2 linked regions of the Homo sapiens genome follow. The protein of the gene in region 1 purifies or fractionates together with the protein of each later gene. This does not show direct contact. Each region holds a gene or a part of one and is shown on either strand. Other genes may lie near its edges.

Region 1 (3,500 bases):
TTCTTTTCTTTTTTTTTTTTTTTTTTTTTTGAGACAGAGTTTCACTCTGGTTGCCCAGGCTGGAGTGCAGTGGCACCATCTCGGCTGACTGCAACAGCCGCCTCCGGGGTTCAAGCGATTCTCCTGCCTCAGCCTCCTGAGTAGCTGGGACTACAGGCGTGCGCCACCACGCCTGGCTAAATTTTTGTATTTTTAGTTGAGACAGGGTTTCACCATATAGGTCAGGCTTGTCTCAAACTCCTGACCTCGGATGATCCACCCGCCTCGTCCTCCCAAAGTGCTGGGATTACAGGTGTGAGCCACCGCGACTGGCCTGAAGCTGCTTTTTCTGAGACGGGCTGATCAAGGGGTTTCAAACAATTAAGAAATAATAAGGCATTGCCTCCCCGCTGGGTGAGATTTGGGCAGGCAGACTAGGGAGAGGGGCTTCGGGGCCAGCACTAGCGGATGCGGGGACTTGGGGAGAAGTGGAAAAAGATGCTCACGGTTCCCTCCTTCTCCACCCAGCCCCTGACGAGGGACTCAGCCTTGAAGAGTGAGGGACAGGATGCGTTTTCCTTTCCACTCGCTCTTTGGGGTGGGGGGAGGCAGTTGTGCCTGGTGGGCCTGTGTACGGACTGGCAGAGGAAAGGTTGGAAGTGGTGATGTTCAGAGTTCAGGACCCATTTGGTTTTGTTTTTTGTTTTGTTTTGTTTTGTTTTGTTTTGTTTTGTTTTGGAGACAGAGTCTTGCTCTGTCGCCCAGGCTGGAGAGCAGTGGCGTGATTTTAGCTCACTGCAACCTCCGCCTCCTGGGTTCAAGCGATTCTCCTGCCTCAGCTTCCCAAGTAGCTGGGATTACAGGCATGTGCCACCATGCCTAGCTAATTTTTGTATTTTTGATAAAGACAGGGTTTCGCCATGCTGGCCAGCTGAGTTCAGGACCCATTTGGAAAGAACTAAGCAGCCCAGTTTGCCACCCAGAGGGTCTGGAGGAGGAACTGTGGGACCCAGTGGGTCACCCATGACATGGAATAAATGCCAGGCTGAGAAGGGAGACCCTCGCCTTGCCCGGAGGCCTGGAGTGGAGGCCCTAAGAGAGGTGTGGCCAGTTACTTACGTGGGGACCAGAGCCCCAAGGATCTGGGAAAGTGGGGACCGTGACACCGCAGGCAAGAAAGCCTGCAGGGGCCAGGTGCCACAGCTCACGCCTGTAATCCCAACACTTTGGGAGGGCAAGGCAGGAGGATTGCTTGAGGCCAGGAGTTCAAGACCAGCCTGGGCAACATAGCAAACCCTCATCTCTCTTTAAAAAAAAAAAAAAAAAATTAAAAAGAAAAGAAGAATGCCCACAGGAAGGCAGTCCTGGGTTCGAATGCCGCCCCTATGGCTCAGGAGCTGGGACCCTCCTGGTAGAAAGGACTGCCCTCAGGGTTGAGCGTCTGTGAAACGGGCAATGACCGGGGAAGGGCCTGACCTGGGCTCGCAGCTGACTCAGCATTTGTGCTGTTTCTCTCTTTCCTCCTTCCCCAGTTCTGAGACCGCTGCTGAGCCAGAAACTCGAATGCTAGCAAGGGAGGGGATGGGTGAGGAATGATAATAATGATGAGCTTCCTGAGCATCTGCCCTGAGCCAGGCCCTGTGCTGAAGGCTGTGTGGGGATGAGCTCACTGAGTCTTCACAACAGCCCTGTGTGGTCCCAGTGTTACAATGCCCATTTTACAGATGGGAAAACTGAGGCCCCACTCATAACCCTCATGCCAGAGAAAGGAATCCAACAGGGGCTTGGAACTGCAGTCAGAGGCTGCCCCTCAGTGGCCATTTCTTCTCGGGGGGACTTGTCACCCTTATGGTTTCCATGACCCTGGCCACCCTCCATAGATATATACCGTGAGCCCATAGGAAAACATTTTCTCGTAGCCACCTTTTTAAAAAAACAAAAGAAACAAGTGAAATTAATTTTAATCACATATCTAATCTATCTGAAATATCATTTCCACATATAGTCAATTTCAAAAACTGTCAATGAGGCTGGGCGTGGTGGCTCATGCCTATAATCCCAGCACTTTGGGAAGCCGAGACGTGTGGATCCCTTGAGGTCAGGAGTTCGAGACCAGCCTGGCCAACATGGTGAAACCCCATCTCTAGTAAATATACAGAAATTAGGACAGCCGTGGTGGCTCACATCTGTAATCCCAGCACTTTGGGAGGCCGAGGTGGGCCTATCATTTGAACCCGGGAGGCAGAGGCTGCAGTGAGCTAAGATCCTGCCATTGCACTCCAGCCTGGGCAACAAGAGCAAAACTCCGTCTCAAAAATAAAAAAAATAAAAATTAGCCAGGTGTGGTGGTGGGCGCCCGTAATCCCAGCTACTCGGGAGGCTGAGGCAGGAGGATTGTTTGAACCCAGGAGACGGAGGTTGCTGTGGGGCTGAGATCGCACCACTGCACTCCAGCCTGGGAGACAGAGCAAGATCTTGTCTCAAAAAAATAAATTCGGGCCCGGTGTGGTGGCTCATGCCTGTAATCCCAGCATTTTGGGAGGCCGAGACAGGCGGATCACCTGAGGTGGGGAGTTCCAGACCAGCCTGACCAACATGGAGAAACCCCGTCCTACTAAAAATAGAAGAGTAGCTGGTCGTGGTGGCACATGCCTGTAATCCCAGCTACTCTGCGAGGCTGAGGCAGGAGACTCGCTTGAACCCGGGAGGCAGAGGTTGCAGTGAGCCGAGATCGTGCCATTGCACTCCAGCCTGGGCAACAAGAGTGAAACACTGTCTCAAAATAAATAAATAAATAGATAGATAAAATAAATAAATTAATTAAGATAAAATAAATAAATAATAAAGGTATGCTGGAAGGGAGAGAGAGAGGAGGTGTTTGAGAGAAAGGAGGAGAGAAAAAAAGTGAAGAGCCCCAGGCGACAGGCGTCGTGCAGGGTGCGGTTCCACGGTGTAGTGGAGCATGCGACATTCAGGGAACAAGCCAAACTGGACAGTGAGAACGGAACACTGGCAGCCCAGCTACAGTGGGACTCGGATGGGCAGGGCCTGCGGTGAGACTGTCAGGCTTCAAGGGACAGAGCCAGGGACCTCGAACCTAACGTGTGTTCCCCATCAGGCAGATGTGGGTGAGATGCTCTACATCCCAGAGCCCCACTCCCCTCTTCTCCAAAATGGGCCTTGGCTGGGTGCAGTGGCTCATGCCTGTAATCACAGCACTTTGGGAGGCTGAGGCAGGTGGATCACCTGAGGTCGGGAGTTCAAGACCAGCCTGGTCAACATGGCAAAAACCCCATGTCTACTAAAAACACAATAATTAGCCGGGCTCATTGCTCACGCCTGCAATCCCAGAACTTTGGGAGGCCAAGGCAGGAGGATCACTTGAGATCAGGAGTTTTGAGATCAGCCTGACCAACATGGCGAAACCCTGTCTCTACTAAAAATACAAAAATTAGGTCAGGTGTGGTGGCTTATGCCTGTAATCCCAACACTTTGGGAGGCTGAGGCGGGCGGATCACCTG
Region 2 (3,500 bases), on another chromosome or scaffold:
TTGATTTTTAAATTATGGTCATTCTTGCAGGAGTAAGGTGGTATCTCATTGTGCTTTTAATTTGCATTTCCATGATAATTAGTGATGTTGAGCATTTTTTCATATGTATGAGGCGTATCAAAAAATTTTTCTTATGCCATTTGTATATCTTCTTTTGAGAATTGTCTATTCATGTCCTTAGCCCACTTTTTGATGGAATTATTTGGCTTTTTTCTTGCTTTTTTGAGATCCTTGTAGATTCTGGATATTAGTCCTTTGTCGAATGCAGTTTGTGAATATTTTCTCCCACTCTGTGGGGTGTCTGTTTACTCTGCTGATTATTTATTTTGCTGTGCAGAAGCTTTTTAGTTTAATTGGATCCCATTTACTTATTTTTGGTTTTGTTGCATTTGCTTTTGGGTTCTTGGTCATGAACTCTTTGCCTAAGCCAATGTCTAGAAGAGTTTTTCCAGTGTTATCTTCTAGAATTTTTATGGTTTCAGGTCTCAGATTTAATCTTTGATCCATCTTGAGTTGATTTTTGTATAAAGTGAGAGATGAGGATCCAGCTTTATTCTTTTACATGTGGCTTGCCAATTATCCCAGCATCATTTGTTGAATATGTTGAATAGGGTGGCCTTTCCCCACTTAATGTTTTTGTTTGCTTTGTCAAAGATCAGTTGGCTGTAAGTATTTTGCTTTATTTCTGGGTTTTCTATTCTATTCCATTGGTCTATGTATCTTTTTTATTTTCTATAGCCTAATTGTGAAAGTGGCATGTCTATTTTTTTAATACCTTTCTTGTTAGTACAAAAAAAAAAAGCCAAACTCAAAACTTATAACCAAGAAGTTATATACATAGTAGAAAAGTACATTTAAAATAGTTTATTTCTCTTTTTAAAATAGTAGGCCAGGCGCAGTGGCTCACGCCTGTAATCCCAGCAGTTTGGGAGGCTGAGGCGGGCAGATCACCTGAGGTCAGGAGTTCGAGACCAGCCTCAACATGGAGAAACCCCATCTCTACTGAAAAAAAAAATATACAAAAAATTAGCCGGGCATGGTGGTGCGTACCTGTAATCCTAGCTACTCGGGAGGCTGAGGCAGGAGAATTGCTTGAACCTGGGAGGCGGAGGTTGCAGTGAGATGAGATCGTGCCATTGCACTCCAGCCTGGGCAACAAGAGCGAAACTCCATCTCCAAAAAAAAAAAAAAAACAAGAGTAGTATTACTTATGTATTGGAAAAACCTTGGGAAGCAAAGATTATTCGTTTATTATTTATTTACTATTTAATTTTACTTTTTAAAATAGAGACGGGGTCTCATTATATTTTCCAGACTGGTCTCAAACTCCTGGGCTCAAGTGATCCTCCTGTCTCGGCCTTCTAAAGTGCTGGGATTACAGACATGAGCTACCTTGCCTGGCCTTAAAAATGATTTTAGCTTGGCCAGGCGCGGTAGCTCACGCTTCTAATCCCAGCACTTTGGGAGGCCCAGGCGGGCGGATCACAAGATCAGGAGATCAAGATCATCCTGGCTAACAAGGTGAAACCCCGTCTCTACTAAAAATACAAAAAAATTAGCCCGGCGTGGTGGCGGGCACCTGTAATCCCAGCTACTCGGGAGGCTGAGGCAGGAGAATGGCATGAACCCGGGAGGCGGAGCTTGCAGAGAGCCGAGATCGCGCCACTGCACTCCAGCCTGGGTGACAGAGCAAGACTCTGTTTCAAAAAAAAAAAAAGATTTTAGTTCACTATTAATATTGTTGTAGAAAAACAGCTCCTATTAACATTTTTCCTCAGGTTTCTTACGTGGGTTTTTTGGTAATAGTATGTATTCTTTTTTTTTTTTTTTTTGAGACAGGGTCTCTCTCTGTTGCCCAGGCTGGAGAATAGTGGCGTGATCTCTGCCCACTGCCACTTCTGCCTCCCAAGCTCAAGCAATTCTTGTGCCTCAGCCTCCTGAGTAGCAGGGACTACAGGCACAGGCATGTGCCACTACGCCCAGCTAATTTTTGTATTTTTAATAGAGACAGGGTTTCACCATGTTGGCCAGGCTGGTCCTGAACTCCTGACCTTAAGTGATCCACCCACCTCAGCCTCCCAAAGTGCTGGGATTACAGGTGTGAGCCACCGAACCTGGCCAATAATATTATGTATTATTTATATAAATATACTGATTTTTCACATACACTATTAACATAATTATTTTCTTTTTATTATACATGCTTCATAGATAGGTTTTGTGATGAATAATAGTCTTTGCAGGTGTGTTTTAGTTAATCATAGTCCTATTATAAGGATATTCAGGCTTTTTAGTTTTTCAGTTACATGTAGTACTGTCATAAAGATCTCTGTAGAAAGCTTTTTTCATTTTCAAAGTGATATTTTTAAGATGTATTCCTAGACATGGAATTACCGAATTGAAGAAGATGAAAATGTTTTAAGTTCTTGACATTTCTGCCAAATTACACTCTGAAAAGATTTTCAATATACTGAGCACAGAGTATCCTCTTTTCAAATATTTTTAAAAATTTGTTATTAGGGAAATTACATCTTTCCATGTGTTGTTAACCAGCTGTGTTTCTTTTTAAGAAAGTTCTTGGCCGGGCGCAGTGTCTCACGCCTGTAATCCCAGCACTTTGGGAGGCCGAGGCTGGCGGATCACGAGGTCAGGAGATCGAGACCATCCTGGCTAACACGGTGAAACTCCGTCTCTACTGAAAATAAAAAAAAATAAAAAAATAAAAAAATTAGCCAGGCGTGGTGGCGGGTGCCTGTAGTCCCAACTACTCGGGAGGCTGAGGCAAGAGAATGGCGTGAACCCGGGAGGCAGAGCTTGCAGTGAGCCAAGATGGTGCCACTGCACTCCAGCCTGGGCAACAGAGCAAGATTCCGTCTCAAAAAAAGAAAAAGAATGTTCTTCACCCAAAATATATTGGGATCTTGGGATTAAGAAACAATCTTTTTAATCAAGTGTTTTGTTTTTTTTTTCATTTTGTAGCCAAAGAAACTCTCCCTGATTTGGTTTCCATCATTCCTGACACAGTCCCGAGTACTGACCTTCTCATTGAAACTACAGCCTCTGCCTGTTACACATTGAACAACATAATCCAAAACAGTTACCAGAATGCACGCGACCTTCTAAACACCGGGGGCATCCAGAAAATTATGGCCATTAGTGCAGGCGATGCGTAAGTCCTTCAGTTCTGCCCGTCAGCTGCCTCCCTTTCCCCTCACCAGCCTGTGTGTAAATAATCCGGTTGTGAATGTGCGGTCATGACCATCATGTGCAACATGGCAGCAAACAGGATGTAAAGCCAGGCCAGATCATCTGGTCAGCCCTCAGTGATCAGCCAAGGAAAGAACTGAATCCACCACACCACATGCTTGTCCCTTCTCTTCTAAAGTATCAACAGAGGGTCAGACTCCAGAACTTCTCTTGGTTGTGCATTCCAGCATTGTATTGGCCTAATGAATTAGTTTCCCAAAGCCACAGCTGTGATTTAATAACAGCAGAATGTA

What was found. Proteins that work in one complex are often made in the same cells at the same time.
Region 2: the proteins of SULT2B1 (region 1) and PKP2 purify together in Homo sapiens (co-immunoprecipitation; one large-scale study listed by IntAct). This does not show direct contact.

The regions. Positions count from the first base shown.
Region 1 is NC_000019.10:48,558,672-48,562,171, forward strand, and holds part of SULT2B1 (sulfotransferase 2B1), read left to right. Parts: intron 1-3,500. UniProt on the Homo sapiens protein: Sulfotransferase that utilizes 3'-phospho-5'-adenylyl sulfate (PAPS) as sulfonate donor to catalyze the sulfate conjugation. Responsible for the sulfation of cholesterol.
Region 2 is NC_000012.12:32,795,778-32,799,277, reverse strand, and holds part of PKP2 (plakophilin-2), read left to right. Parts: intron 1-2,979; coding exon 2,980-3,169; intron 3,170-3,500. UniProt on the Homo sapiens protein: A component of desmosome cell-cell junctions which are required for positive regulation of cellular adhesion.